2 separate regions of the Homo sapiens genome follow, and region 1 is linked to region 2. The links come from fine-mapping of genetic effects on gene expression. Tissue or cell type: vagina. Region 2 holds a variant in brackets; the other region holds the start of a gene. All regions are shown on one strand. Distances are between the middles of the regions.

What was found. PIP is the estimated chance that this variant, and not a neighbour inherited with it, causes the effect.
Region 1: it holds the start of FHIP2B, and the variant in region 2 is fine-mapped to the expression of FHIP2B in vagina (GTEx, PIP above 0.99).

The regions. Positions count from the first base shown.
Region 1 is chr8:22,085,963-22,094,064 of GRCh38, reverse strand. FHIP2B (FHF complex subunit HOOK interacting protein 2B) reads right to left here and starts at 4,915. Exons shown (of 17, transcript NM_022749.7): 1 at 4,767-4,915. The coding sequence starts at 4,811. RefSeq lists enhancers at 1-50, 4,036-4,175, 7,275-7,884 and silencers at 4,396-4,495, 4,686-4,745, 4,806-5,025.
Region 2 is chr8:21,247,588-21,255,689 of GRCh38, reverse strand. No RefSeq gene overlaps it. Among named protein-coding and RNA genes, the nearest start is that of LINC03093, 47 kb to the left of the region's middle. The variant A/G (reference allele first, on the strand shown) is at 4,415.

The sequences.
Region 1 (8,102 bases), 840 kb before region 2:
CAGTCCCCCAAAGAAAAGCAAAATGATACAGATCGAAAATGTGGCAAAGGTCAGGTGCAGTGGCTCACGCCTGTAAGCCCAACAGTTTGTGAGGCAAAGGTGGGCAGACGGCTCGAGTCCAGGAGTTTAAACCAGCCTCGGCAACATGATGAAGCTCTGTCTCTATAAACAATTTAAAAACTAGCAGGACGTGGTGGTGTCTGCCTATAGTCCCAGCTACTTGGGAGGCTGGGGTGCGAGGATCACCTGAGCCCAGGGAGGTCAAGGCTTCAGTGAATTGTGATCGCAGCGCTGCACTCCAGCCTAGGTGACAAGGTGAGACCCTATCTCAAAAAAAAAAAAAAAAAAAAAAAAAAGACAAAGCTTTTCCATTCCTCTCAATCTGAGAGTCTATGAAAATCTGTTCAAGACCACCACAGGCTCTGTTCAGCCGGAAGGGTAGGTAACATTAGCATGATATTAACAATGTGCCTTCCTTATAACATGCTTACATGCTTTCATCTTGTGTCCAAAGCCTGAGCCTGCACAACCCCAACTCCTCAGCCAGTGCTGTTCTCGTTTCCTCCTCTACCGGCTCCTTCTATCAAGCCCTGGAAAATTCTGGTTCTGCTCTGGGCAAGCCCCTAACCTCCCCCTTTTCCATGAGTGCTCTCTCCATCTCTACACCATGGCTGATACTGGCCTTGCACTGAGAACAATCACTTTCCCTGAAAACTTCTCAAAAACAACAACAACAACAACAACAACACCATTCCTTCGCTTTTCTTGCAGAGTAAATGTTTTCAGGAAAAAAAGAATTCTAATCATCCCTCCCCACAGCTGTGCATTTCTGCCTCTAGGTCTTTGCTGGGGCCACTCCTCTGCCCAAGGTGCTCTGTATCCCACTAACTGTCTGGATCGTGAAAGTCCCCAGTGAGGTTCAGTCCCCAGCAGCTCCACCAAGCCCTCTCCAGTGTCCCTGCCTGCCCACACCTCTCTGACCTCACACTTTACTGCACCACAGAACTGAGTAGCCACTCATGAAATCATTTGTTCATTCTAAGTGCCCACTATGTACAAGACACTATGCTAGATGCCACAAGCAACATGAGGATGACTAACACCTAGTCCTCAAGAAATGTGTCATGGAGAAGACGATATAAAACCGCATTGAATAACGAAGCTACAAGGAAGTAGTGTGAGGCCGCAGGAGAGGTGGAAAGTAGTGACCTCTCAGAAAAACAGGGGTAACTTCTAACAGGCTGGAACAGGGAAGGCTTTACCAAGATCACATCTCAACTAAAACTTGAAGAACCAGGTCAATATCAACAAGAGAAGGAAGACAGTCCCTGCAGAAGGAACTCTGCAAAGTGTGCCTGGGGAAGGGGTGGGCTGGCGAGACTTCGGAGTCTCTAATGCCAAGCCAAGAAGTCTCAGTCATTTTTTGCAGGCAGCAGGGAGCAGGTCAATGACAACTTTTTTTTTTTCTTCTGAGACAGAGTCTCAAAAAAAAAAAAAAAGAGTCTCACCGTCACTGAGGCTAGAGTGCAGTGGCACCATCTCAGCTCACTGTAACCTCCGCTTCCTGGGTTCAAGTGATTCTCCTGCCTCCCAAGTTGCTGGGATTACAGACATGTGCCACCACGCCTGGCTGATTTTTGTATTTTTAGTAGAGACGGGGTTTCACCATGTTGGCCAGGCTGGTCTCAAACTCCTGACCTCAAGTGGTCCGCCCACCTGGGCCTCCCAAAGTGCTGGGATTACAGGCATGAGCCACCACACCCGGCCATTGGCACCTTCTGAGCAGTGTTTTCGGAAGACTCATCTGGCAGTTGGCCTTGGGAGAGGAGGTAAAGGCAGGAAGAATATGCTTAGAAGGCCACTGCAACATGGGGAGGGAGGGATGACATTCACAGAACTGGAAACTCCCCTCAGTCCGCAGGGCATCTTGTCTTCTTGCAAAGCTAGTTGGTAGGGGCTGCAACCCTTCTCAAAAGTAGCACCACCCACAGTTATTCCAAATATTCCATCCCTGTGCAGTGACCGCATCTCACTACATTCTATGTGACAGTGCCTGCTGTGCTGAGCAATCATCTCTTCTGCTAGATGATGAGCTCCCTGAGAGCCAGGGTTCTGTGTTTTACAGCTAGCCTGCCCTCAATGGGCTCAGCACATAGTGAATACCCATGAATATTTACCAGATATCTCAGGAAACTCCTGGAGAGATTCTTTCCCTAGTTCCTTGTTTTAGAAAGTCCTCTGGCCCTTCACCAGCCCTACAATTATCTCATAATTTCTGTGATGGGGTCTCCTTTAGCCTCAAAATTGGCTTATAGTCTTTGAAAACCTTGAGCTGGGCTTTAACCAAAAAGAATACTCCAGTACGGCAGGAGACACGGGAGAGGCAGGTTAACCAGCACAGGCCATTAGAGAGCTGGTGACACAGGTGTGTGATCTTTACCTAACTCCACCACCAGCTATGATAACTCCAAACCAAAGGCACTAGACCCAACAATTTCTCTTTAACGATATTATTAGTGGCCAGACATGGTGGTGGCTCACACCTGTAATCCTAGCACTTTGGGAGGCCAAGGCAGGTGGATCACTTAAGGTCAGGAGTTCGAGACCAGCCTGGCCAACATGGCGAAACCTCATCTCTACTAAAATTACAAATATTAGCTGGGCGTGGTGGCGCAGCCCTGTAGTCCCAGCTACTCAGGAGGCTGAGGCAGGAGAACCACTTGAGGTGGAGGTTGCAGTCAGCTGAGATCGCCCCACTGCACTCCAGCCTGGGTGACAGTGGAAGACTCCATCTTAAAAAAAAAAAAAAAAAAAAAAAAAAAAAGCTGTAATGATTCCTAATCTGTTAGATCAGAAGAGGGCGGGAAGGAGCAGTCTTCCTACTCAATGAGTAATCAGTTGACTTACTAGGATCACACTTGGTGACCAAGGCTTGGGAAAGACCTAGACTGGCGACCTGAGGGTAGAGCACAAAAGAGGAATTCCCGTCTCCCTGTAGGGCCAACCACACCGCCCGGACATAGCCTATATGGTCAATACTAAAGGGCCCGGAAGATCACCTGCCTAAAAAGATCTCCCTCCACTGCCAAAATCTCCTGCCACTGATGCCTGTACTTCTGTCATTGGAAGCCTTAGAATTTGACTCCTAGCCGGGTGCGGTGGCTCATGCCTGTAATCCCACCACTTTGGGAGGCTAAGGATCGCTTGAGGCCAGGAGCTCAAGACCAGCCTGGGCAACATGTTGAAACCCTGTCTCTACAAAAAATACAAAAATTAGCCTGGCGTGGTGCCGCATGCCTGTAGTCCCAGCTACTCAGGAGGCTGAGGTGGGAGGATTGCTTGAGCCCAGGAGGTGGAGGCTGCAATGAGCGGAGATCGCACCACTGTAGTCTAGCCTGGGCTCAGAAATAAATAAATAAATAATAAAAAGAAAAGAAAAAGAAAGAAATTCACTCCTCAGGACTGAGGAACTGTCTGGCCTGTCTCACCTCCTGTAAATGGAGTGTTCCCCAGAGGTATGAATTGGTTTATCAGATCACTTTTGAAGATCACAGCTGTTTTGACTGGGGATGGGGGAAGGGGAAGAAAAATCATTTTGGAACCCTCTCTACCTGGATGCCCCAAGGCCCTGGCCCTGGGTCAACAGCAGGGCTGGGAAGGTGGAGGAAGTCATAGTTTCTGACTTTCTTCCCAACTTTGCCTAAGGCAAACTTCTTTCAACAGGAGCTCCCATGAGGGTTGGGGAGGAGGTGGTGGGGAGGAAGGAGGGTGAAACCCAAGACTTTCTCTCCTGAGAAAATCTGATACTCAACTCATCAATTGGGGGAAGATTTATACTAGGAGGCAGAAGTATTGCTGACTTTACAGACAGCTTCTTGGCAGAGTTACTTTCAACAGCGGGCACCCCCCCCACCCTACCGGGAATACCCCCACCCTTCCTACACAGCGCTACATCTTGCTGAACGAACCCTAGTAGTAGGCTGCCTGCCAGCCTGCAGCCCCAACAAAAAATGGCAAAAACACAAACTGACGGCACGTGAAACATCAATGGACTCTCCTCCCCGCACAGGGCCACCCAGGCCCCACCACGGGCGGCATGTCCCTAACTCAATTTGGCTTGTGAGGGGTCACAGCCACGCTGGAAACATCTGCACCCAATAGAAGGCGATTTCCCCGGCTGGGGGCCCACCAGCCTGCCCCGGGTCTTTACCCTTCGTGGGGACTTGGACCGGCAGGGCCTGCACTTCCCACGTCCCGGGGTGACGGGAAGGGCGTCCTGCACCCCAACAAGGTCCTGGAGTTGTCTGGGAGATCAGACCGAGGGGAAGGGACGGCGATTTTTTCAAGCCCAGGCGAGGCGGTGGGGTGGAGCGGAGGAAGGAGGCAGGCCCACCGGGACTGGGGGGAGGCGGCCTAGGGCCCCGGGGGGCAGGAAACACCCCAAGCGGTGACAGGGAGCGTCCCGGCGGAGGCGAGTTCGGGAATTGGGAGAGACTCCGGGGCCAGGACGCACAGACAGGAAGCGACGCGGGAGCAGGCCGGGGAGGTGGGGCGGTCGGGAGGAGTCTGGGAGCGGGACTGGGAAGAGCGAGGGGAAGCGGGGCGCGGCCGGGGAGGCAGAGGAAGGGGCGCCGCGGCCCGGGGGTCCCTGCCCGAGGGGGCCCGCGCCCGCCCGCCCTCCTGCGGGCCGCGCCCGGCTCCGCGCCCGCCCAGCCCGGCCTAGGCCCGCGACTCCCGGCGGCCCGGCCCGGCCCTGCCGGCCTCACCGCCCCCACGGCTTCCTGCAGCAGCGCCCCGAGCCGGCTCAGCATGATGGCGCCCGGCCCCCGGCTCCCGGGCGAAAGCGGCGGCGGCAGCGCTCTAGGCGGAGGAGGCAGCCCCGTGGCCCCGGCGGCCCCGGCGCGACGAGGGGGGCGGGGCCCGGCCGCTCCGCCCCTTCCCGGCCCGGCTGCGTGGCGCTGGCTAACCCCGGCTGGGGGCGCCCAGTCGGGCTGGGAACCGCCAGCGGTGGGCCCTGAGAGTTGGCTGGGAGGTGTTTTTTTTTTTTTTTTTTTTCTTTCCTTTCTTCCGAGACAGGGTCTCGCTTGGTCGCCCAGGCTGGAGTGTAGTGGCGCGATCTCTGCTCATTGCAGCCTCCAACTCCTGGACTCATGCGATCCTCCAACCCCGGCCTCCAGAGTAGCTGGGTCCACAGGCGCGCGCCACCACGCCTGGCCAATTGTTTTTTTTTTTTGTTTTTTTACTGGGAGGGGAGGTCTCACTGTGCTGCCTAGGATGATCTCCAGCTCCTGGCCTCAAGCGACCCTCCCGCCAGGGCCTCCTGAGTAGCTGGGATTAAGGCGGGAGCTAAGGGAGGTGTTTTCGAAGAGAAATTACAATTCCTCCTGAATTGAAGTCTCAGTCAGCCCCAGGCACATGGGCTGATGAGCTCCTGAAATGTGCTGGTCCCAACCAAGATGTGCCGTGCCAAGCACACCCCGATTTGGAAGATACAGTAAGAAAGGAAAGTGTGAAACTGCAACAACCATGGCTTATATTGATTACATATTGAAATGACTATTAGGTGTGTTGGGTTAAATAACGTATATTGTTAAAATTAACTTCACGTGTTGCTTTTTACTTTTTTGACAGGGCTATCAGAAAATGTTTATGGGCTGTGGGCGGTGGCTCACACCTGTAATCCCAGCACTTTGGGAGGCCAAGGCGGTTTGATCACTTGAGGCCAGGAGTTTGAGACCAGCCTGGCCAACATGGTGAAAACCCGTCTCTACTAAAAATACAAAAAAATTAGCCAAGCGTGGTGGTATGTGGAGGCTAAGGTGGGAGAATCACTTGAACCCGAGAGGCAGAGGTTGCAGTGAGCCAAGATCGTGCCAGTGCACTCCAGCCCGGGCAACAGAGTGAGACCGTCTCAAAAAAAAAAAAAAAAAAAAAAAAGTCTGCAGCTGAGTGTGGTGGCTCAAGCCTGAAATCCTAGCACTTTAGGAGGCCAAGGCTGTTGACCAGCCTGGGCAACATATGAAGATCCTGTCTTGACAAAAAATAAAAATACAAAATAACCAGGTGTGGTGGTATGTGCCTGTAGTCCAAGCTGCTCGGGAGACTGAGGTGGGAGGAGGATCACTTGAACCCAGGAGTTCGAGGCTGCAATGAGCTATGATCGTGCCCCTGCAGTCCAGACTGGGTGACAGCAAAATAGTGTCTCTCTAAGAAACAAAAACCAGTGTCTCTGCTTATCACTGACATCATATTGTGTCCGGAATTGGTAGGTTCATTGGTCTCACTGACTTCAAGAATGAAGCTGTAGACCCTTGCAGGGAGTGTTACAGCTCTTAAGGTGGCACGTCTGGAGTTTGCTCTGATGTTCGGATGTGTTTGGACTTTCTTCCTTCTAGTGGGTTCGATGGTCTCGCTGGCTTAGGGGTGAAGCTGCAGACCCTCGCGGTGAGTGCTACAGCTCTTAAGGCGGCGCGTCTGGAGTTTTTAGTTCCGCCTGTTGGGTTCGTGGTCTCGCTGACTTCAGGAGTGAAGCTGCACACCTTTGCCGTCAGTGTTACAGCTCACAAAAGCAGTGGGAAACCCAAAGAACGAACAGCAGCAACTTATTGCAAAAAGTGAAAGAAAAAAACTTCCACAGTGTGGAAAGGAACCCAAGCGAGTTGCCACTGCTACCTTGGGCAGCCTGCTTTTATTCTCTTATCTGGCCCCACCCTCATCCTGCTGATTGGTAGAGCCCAGTGGTCTGTTTTGACAGGGCGCTGATTGGTGCGTTTACAATCCCTGAGCTAGACACAAAGGTTCTCCACGTCCCCATCAGATTAACTAGATGCAGAGTGTTGACACAAAGGTTCTCCAAGGCCCCACCAGAGCAGCTAGACACAGAGTGTCGATTGGTGCACTCACAAACCCTGAGCTAGACACACGGTGCTGATTGGTGTGTTTACAAACCTTGAGCTAGATACAGAGTGCCCATTGGTGTATTTACAATCCCTGGGCTAGACATAAAGGTTCTCCACGTCCCCACCAGACTCAGGAGCCCAGCTGGCTTCACCGAGTGGATCCCGCACCGGGGCTGCAGGTGGAGCTGCCTGCCAGTCCCGCGCCGTGCTCCCGCGCCGTGCGCCCGCACTCCTCAGCCCTTGGGTGGTCGATGGGACTGGGCGCCCTGGAGCAGGGGGCGGCGCTCGTCGGGGAGGCTCCGGCCGCACAGGAGCCCACGGAGCGGGTGGGAGGCTCCGGTATGGGCGGGCTTCAGGTCCCGAGCGCTGCCCCGCGGGAAGGCAGCTAAGGCCCGGTGAGAAATCGAGCGCAGCGCCGGTGGGCTGGCACTGCTGGGGGACCCAGTACACCCTCCGCAGCTGCTGGCCCGGGTGCTAAGCCCCTCATTGCCCGGGGCCTGCAGGGCCGGCCGGCTGCTCCGAGTGCGGGGCCCGCCAAGCCCAAGCCCACCCGGAACTCCAGCTGGCCCGCAATCGCCGCGCGCAGCCCCGGTTCCCGTTCGTGCCTTTCCCTCCACACCTCCCTACAAGCTGAGGGAGCCGGCTCCGGCCTTGGCCAGCCCAGAAAGGGGCTCCCAAAGTGCAGCGGTGGGCTGAAGGGCTCCTCAAGTGCCGCCAAAGTGGGAACCCAGGCAGAGGAGGCGCCGAGAGCGCTGTGAGGACTGCCAGCACGCTGTCACCTCTCAATATGACGAGAGGGAAAGGAATCAGTTTCCCTCGGGAAGGAAGAATAGCCCCTGTCAGAATTATAGAACCTAGAGTTTTGGGGTCTCGGGCTTCACAGGACCTGCCTCACCTTTTAGGACCCATTCCCCAGTGGGGCTGAGGCACAGGAAATGCTGACCTGCCCAGAGTGGGCTCTGTGCTGTGGTGTGGAGCCTGCAGTCCAGACTCTGAGCCAGGGTGGCCAGTGTCTGGGCCTCAGGCCCTGAGGAGGGCCAGGGTTCAGCCAAGCCCAGGCTGAGTGAGAATTGATTGGGACCTCAGTTCTCTGACAGGTGGGAGTTCCAATTCAGTCTCTGCAGATTTCTAGGCCCACCTCCTCACAGGTAAAGGACCCAGGCTGGATAGGTCAAATCAGCTTGCTTCCCTTCAGCATGTCTC
Region 2 (8,102 bases):
CCTCCCAGGTTCAAGTGATTCTCATGCCTCAACCTCCCCAGTAGTTGGGATTGCAGGCATGTGCCATCACATCCAGCTAATTTTTTTTTAAGTAGAGAAGGGGTTTCATCATATTGGCCAGGCTGGTCTCGAACTCCTGGCCTCAAGTGATCTGCCTGTCTTAGCCTCCCAAAGTGCTGGGATTACAGGTGTGAGCCACCTCGCCACCCTATTTTTATCTTTCAAGCAAGAGGTTAGAAAAACCTTCTCTAGAGATTGCACCAGTTCAGGTACAATGTTACCACGCTGGGGGTTTTCCAATGTAACAGGCCAACCAGATTACTCCAGTGTGATAGTCCACAAGACTCATTCACATGCTCCGTGCTCTCAGACACCCAGTCTTAAAGATAAGGAGATGACAAGGAAAGTCAGAGATAGATCTGAGGAAAGCTTCCATCTAGAAAGATCAACACCAGAATAAAGAAATAGAAAAAGGCAACTTGATGGAACAGAGACTACAGAGAGAATACAAAAAATAAAATCATCTAAATATCTTTAGGGAAATAAGAGAATATAGTGCAATCCTGAAACAAGAACATGGTATTTTAAAAAGGAACATTCAGAGAACAAGACTTTTTTTTTTTTTTAGAAATTAAAAGTATGATGGTTGGGAGATAAAGTTAAGGTATTCTCAGAGAAAGTAGAGCCAAAAGTGAAGAGGATGGAAAGCAGGGGTGAAAATATTAAAAATGAGACAGCCTGTCCTGAAAGACTAGTATCTGAATCATAGTTCCATAATGAGTGAAGAGGGGAAACAGAAGAGAGGAAATCATCAAAAAATAAGAAAATTTTCTGTATTTGAAAGACATGCACTTGCAGATGAGAAGAGCCAGTGAAGATTCAAACAATGAGTGATAACAGACTCACATCATGGCACATCTTTTTAGGAAATTTTAGAACACTGGAACTGAAGGTTCATCCTACAAGTTTCCAGGGAGGAAAAAAAAATGTAGATTGCCTACACAGGATAAGCAAACAGAATGACTTCTGACTCCTCAACAGCAACACCAGAAATTAGGACTACTCAAATTTTTTATGCAAAATGATTTGTAACCTGGAATGCTGTATCAATCGCATTGATACAAATTTATCAATTATGTGTATGGAGAGAATAAAAACGTGAATGTTTCAAGAGATTTACCCCTAAGGCACCTTTTCTTAGGAAACTATTGGGAAGTTTGCTCTGCCAAACTGAGACAGTAAACTAACAGAGAGGAAGACATGAGTTATAGGAAACAGGAATTTCTACACTGAAGATAGACGAAAGAAATGCCAGGATGATAGTGAAGGGAGATACTAGGATGCATCAAAGGCAAGTAAGCCAGATTGGAGTAGCACACAGGGCTCTGAGAGAGACAGAGAGTTCTTTAAGAAAATGAAACTGCTGGAATGTTTGATGGGTCCAACTATACTGAGAGGAGATTTAGACATTGGGCAGACAGTTGGGGTTGAAATGTGATAAATACACAGAGATGAACAAATGAAAAAGGTAAAGCAAAACAAAAACAAAAATTGAGACAGAACAGAATAGTGCTGAGAAGGAAAAAGATTCACAGTGTACCCTGAGGCTTAGCCATGCACAGTGTCTGTATGGTGATAATAGTAATGTACACCAGGTGAAGATGAATATGCCAACCAATCACAGTACATCTCCACTGGGGGTACATCGGGGCTGGTTAGGAATATGTGTATGTGGTGAGCTTGTGGAGATGAGAGCAAACTCACGTCTTACCTTTTATACTGCAAGTCGAGAGACAGCCTAGAATTGGTAAAACTCAAGAAGTAGTTAGATATGCATGCAACTTAGAGGAGTGGAGGCAAATTAAAAGTAATGGCAAAAACCACAATTACTTTTTCACCAACCTAATACTAACTGAATGCTATAACTGTTGAAGGTGTTGGGTTCTGGTGATTAAGCAATGAGGGAGATGGAGAGGAGAGGGCAGGGGCTAATGCCTTCTAAAGCATGCATGAAATAAAAGCATGTGTGATAAAAACAAAACCTTAAAAATGGCAAGGAAATTTGAAAAAGTAAATTTTCTGTTCATGTCTAGCTTCTAATAGAAAGAAATAAATAATTAGATAAATAAAAATAAAACCATTCGTGGCCATTATAGAAAAGCTGGAAATGCTAGTAAGTATGTAGATGACACTACTATTTGCACTATTCATGGCCTTTTCACTCCCATCCACTGCTATGTGAATTGCAGTCCCCTACCTACTACAGGTGTGTGATCCCCTCTTTGACTGATCGTGCCAGGCTTGCTCTGTGAGGTTTTTGGCCAATGGAATGTGACTGGAAGTGACATTCAGCTGTCCAGCAGAGGCTTTAAAAACCTTTCCAATTTCTGTCATTGTTCTTTTTCCAGTGCTTTAGAATGGCCTGCCTCACGTGGGAGAGGTTCTTTTATTGAGTGTAGAAGGACCTGTGAGATAGAGCCACTGTTTTCCCATAGATGTGTATAACATGAGCAGGAAGTAAACCTAGAAAATAGCTGAGTAATGCAATATGTAAAAGTAAACAAAAGAAAACAAAGCAACACATCTGCTTCACTCGGAAATAATCACATTTAAACTTTTGATATTGTGTAGAATGCATTATTGTTGCCCATTCTTGGACCCCCAATAACTTGCAGTGTCTACCCCGACTGGCAAGTGCATCTCCTTACCCCTTGTCTTGGGCTTTGGCTCTGTGACTTACTTTGGCCTGGTGGAATGTGGGCAGAAGTGATGCATGCAGAGGCTAGAGATGTGCTCCTGCAGTTGGGCTTGCCCTCTTATGCTTCTGCCATGATAAAAGATGCCTGGATAGCATAGGCACTGGAGAGATGTGTGGACCAGGACCTCCCCTGCAGCCCTATTGCCTTGCTTCCCTCAGGAGAGACATCCTAATAACACACAAAAAACAAGTGCTTCTTATAGGCTTTGGGGTATTCTGTTAAACAGCATTTTGTGGTAACAGCTAATTGATACCTAACGCTGATACCTAGATTCCTGCCCTTTAAGACTTTTTCTATAGAAGCATGTCTGATTTCTCCATATAGGGATCATACTATCATACTATGCTGTTTTGTAATTTTTGACTTAACGTGTCACCTCTTCTTCATGTAACTATGCATTCTTCTTATTGTTCTTTCTTCTTTCTTCTTCCTTCTTCTTTTTTCTTCTTTTTAAATGGAGTCTCATGCTGTTGCCCTGGCTGGAAAGCAGTGGTGCGATCTCAGCTCACTGCAAGCTCCGACTCCCGGGTTCAAGTTATTCTCCTGCCTCAGCCTCCCAAGTAGCTGGAATTACAGGTGTCTGCTACCATGCCTGGCTAATTTTTGTATTTTTGGTAGAGGTGGGTTTCACCATATTAGCCAGGCTGGTCTAGAATGCCTGGCCTTAAGTGATCTGCCTGACTTGGCCTCCCAAAGTGCTGGGATTACAGGGGTAAGCCACCATGCCTGGCCTCTTTGTGTTCTTCTATAGCATATTCTTAAAAATAATTGTACTGTTTGCTGTTTAAATAATCATCTACTGGTCAACATTACACTTTTTCTGTGTTTTTTCATTTCACAAGTATTTATGTGATAAACATTGTCATACAAAATTTTTTTATAGATTCATGGTTATATTAAATTCCAAGGTATGTGATCAAGTAATAAGGCTTTTATAGTTATTGTCAAATTTATTAGAATTCTATATAAATGCCCATTTTCCATTTTACCAACACTGAATATTGTTATTTGTTAAATTGTGTATAAATTTGAAACATAAATTATATTGTATTTTAATTTGCATTTCTTTGATTCTAGAGATGTTGAACAATAATTTTTAAAAATAGCTTTATGAAGGTATAATTTACATACCATAAAATACATTTTAAATGTGCAATTCATTTATTTCATAATAAATTTATAATTATGCAACCATCACAAGGATCCAATTTTGAAATATTTCCATCACCCCAAAAGCATGCCTTCAACCCATTGGCTGTCCTTTTCTCTCAGCCGTGGTCAACCTTCTACCTTAATGACTTTTGGTCTCTTAAAAATTTATTGGCATTTCCTGTTGTGTGAATTGCCCACTTTGCCCTCTTGCCTATTGGAATATAGTTCTCGTCTTAGTGATTTATAAGAACCATTCAAAGACTCAGTTAAAAGTATGAAAGTTTTAAGTCAGCGTACATAGCCCTGCTTAACTGTCCGGTCCTTCCTCCTGTAATTTTTCCACTTCAACCTTGTGCTCCACTGTCCTTCTGGCTGCTGTTGCCACCACATGCCACAGCGGTCTTCTCTTGGCTTGGGTCTTTACTCCCCACCCTTGTCCTCACTCCTACTCATCTTCCTAGTCCCCAGAACAAATAACACATTCAGAGAGACCTTCCTTGACT[A/G]TTAACTGGAGAGGTCCCTGGTATGACTTTCAATTTTTTGGCTTCAGAGGGACATATCTCTATGTCTAATGATTTATTTGAAGGTGGTCCTGCTTTTAATGTCTGTTGTCCATGGGGTTGAAAATTCTGTGAAGGTGTAGGTCCCATGTGTTTTGTTTATCACTGTATGCCTGGCCCCAGGTTGCTGATTTTCTATTTTTTATTTTATTTTATTTTATTTTGAGACAGAGTCTCACTCCATCACCCAGGCTAGAGTGTAGTGACATGCTATCAGCTCACCGAAACCTCTGCCTCCCAGGTTCAAGCGATTCTCCTGCCTCAGCCTCCTGATTAGCCGGGATTACAGGTATAGACCTGGCTGATTTTTCTGTTTCTTTTTTTCAGTAGAGATGGGGTTTCGCCACGTTGGCCAGGCTGGTCTCGAACTCCGGGCCTCAAGTGGTCAGCCTGCCTCGGCCTCCCCTAAGTGCAGGGATTACAGGCATGAGCCACTGCTCCTGGCCTTTTTTTTTTTCTTTTTGGCTTGTTTCCTCTTAATTTTATTTGTGGCATCTTCAGATCTTTATAAGTATTTAAATGTTTATGTAGTAAAGCTTATAATTTTTTTCTTTTAGAGTTTCTTCCTTTGCTTTTATGCTTAGGAGTGTCTTTTCTACATGAGAGCAGATAAGTATTCACTTATATTTTCTTCTAGGTTTTTTATGTTGTTTTTAATGAAAAATTTTAGTGCTTTTATCCATTTGGAGCTTATATTGGTTTATAGTGTGAAGACCATAATATAAAGTAACTGTATTTTCACAAACAGTTAACAAATTACCCTAACTGCATTTACGAAATAAATCTATCACCTTCTCACTGGTTGGAAATGCCACCTTTACTGGATACTAAATTCCTATGTATGCTAAATTCTATTTTTGGGCTTCCTAGCATGTACCACTGCTTTATCGATTTACTTATTTTAGTGCCAGTGTTATATAAGCCGAGGAATCTTCTAACTGTAGTGATGCTTTGCTTGTAGCATATTGTCAATATAAAGGTAGTGACAAGGGATTCCAATCTTCAGGACCATTTTCTTTGTCATTGAAAATTCATAATTGGACACTCTGGTTTTTGACATCGCTGTTATCAGCCCAGTGAGTCTGAGGCTGCCTCTGATTAAAGCCCCTTTCTTGATGTGCTTGCAAAGTCACATTTCTGGATGTGCCAGGCTATAGGTCCTATGCCTCGTCTGCAATGCTGTATTCTGCTTATCTTTAGAGTACCATATTCGGATCTCAAATGCAAGCTTTTAAGGCAACATTATGAGTAAAAAGTAGGCTAGATGTGAGACAATATGGAGAAGTGGAGACTGTGGTATCTGGAGAGTCCAAGCTGGTCTGAAGTCATTCCAATGATTTAAAAGTGTACAAGCTGAGCAAGGAATGGAGCAGACTGGATTTGGCATGAGGACTACATGTTTTCACTTCTGTTTGTATAGCAGTGAATAGTTTATTTATAGATTGTTTTATTTGATTGCTACAACAATCCTTTGAAGCAGATACTGCAATGTACCATTTTATAATACACATACTACATCTTCAAGAGGCTGAGTGACTTGCATAAAGCCTGTGAGCCAACACGTCATATTACAGATCCAGGACCCTGACGTGATCCAGGATTATATTCTTTTTCTTCCAAACCATGTTGTGGTGCCATCCGTAAATAGAGCAGGAATAACTGTGAGAAGCTTGTATGAGCTATTTCTATCACTGAATCTGAAAATAGCATGATCGAAGTGACCTACAAACTATCTATAAGCCTGGCTCTGGCTGGATTCCAAACATCAGGGCATAAGGCAGAGAGAAATGACACCAGGCAGTGAGAGTGAGCCTGGCCAGAGAGGCTGCGGGCTGAGTAACCCACTGCTTTCCATCCTCTTATTGTTGTAGTCATTTAGGAAACTCCCAGAGAGAGAGGCTGTTGGAGATGATGCACACTTTTAAATTACCAGTTCATTTCCGAAGCTGGTGTGTTCTCTCTCTCTCGCCTCTTGCCTTTCGCCTTTTCCACCTTTCCTACATGTATTACCATGGTACTCAAGTCCTGTAAGGGTGGATCACTTCTGGATGTCAGGATCCAAAGCAGGCGAAAAACCCATTTCCATTTCTAACTTTGAGCCTCAGCGGCTCTGAGTCCTTCTGAATGATACGGTCAAGGTAGATGTGAAGACTCATGAAAAGAAGGCTGCTATCTTCTGAGCCTGCTATCCTCTGACATAAGGGCTGGGGCAGGGGCTCACTACCAAGAGGGCTCTTTAACTCCATTTGAGAGAAGAGGGTTGGAGGCACTGGGAAATGAGACATTCCTTCTAGAGACCACCTGCTTTGTCTCAACAGCCAGAAAGAGGATCCTGATGAGCTTGAACCTGGAGAAAGGGTATCCCATTTTGCCTGGCACTAACTGCCAGTGCGTTTGTTTGAGCTGATGACCTTCTGAGAGTTCTGGGGACAGTGTAACCAAAAGTTTCTTTCAGAAGAAAAAAAAGGGTGACTTCAAGTGAGCCAGAGCCAGTGGGATACATCAGGGTCTTCCTGGGCTCTGCAGTAGTTTTCTGACACTGAACAAGTCTCATTCACTAAGCCTCTGGTTTCTGGCTTGCAAATTAAAGAAGTTTTAGACTAGCACATTATAGAGAAAGCAGAAAGGCCATGTCCACACAGAAGACATGCCAACTATATGGGGACGAAGTACCTAAACAGAATAGCCACGGAAAGCCTTAGACTGAGGAGTGGTGAGGCACCTCACTAGTACAAAAACATGAGCAGTCTGAAGATGGAGAACAGGTCCTTCTCTTTTTAATTGCAGTAGCATTCACATGACACAAATTTTACCATCTTTACCATTTTTAAGTATACAGTTTAGTAGAGTTACGTATATTCACATGACAATATGAATATAAACAATGCTATGTGAATATTCACATAACAGTGTGAACATACTTAATCTCCAGGACTCTTGTCACCATCCCGAATTGAAACTCTGTACTTATTAAAGACAAATTTCCCATTCTCCCCTCCACCCAGCCCCTGGCAGCAATCGTTTTACTTTCTGTCTGGATGAATTTGACTCCTCCAGGTACCTCATGTAAGTGAAATCATATAGCATTTGTCTTTTTATTTAACTTAGCATAATGTCCCCAGAGTCCATCTGTGCTGTACTATGTATCATAATTTCTTTTCTTTTTAAGGCTGAATAATCCATTGTATGTATACACTGCACTTTATTCACTTGTCAATGGACATTTGGGTTGCTTCCACCTTTGGCTTTTGTGAATAATGCTACTATGAACATAGGTGTGTAAATATCTTGTCATGACCTGCTTTCAAATCTTGTGGATGTATATCCATCCAGAAGTGAAATTGCTGAATCATATAATTCTACTCTTAATTTTTTGAGGAATTAACACACTTTTCCATGAGGGTTGCATCATTTTACAGTCCTGCCGACAGTGCATGAGGGTTCCAATTTCTCCACGTCCTTGTCCACACTTACTTTCGGGTTCGTTTTTTGAAAGTAGCCAACCTAATGGGTTTGAGATGGTATGTCATTGTGGTTTTGATTTGTATTTCCCTAATGATTAGTGATGGTGGACATCTTTTCATGTGCTTTTTGGCCATTTATGTATCTTCTTTGAGGAAATGTCTATTTC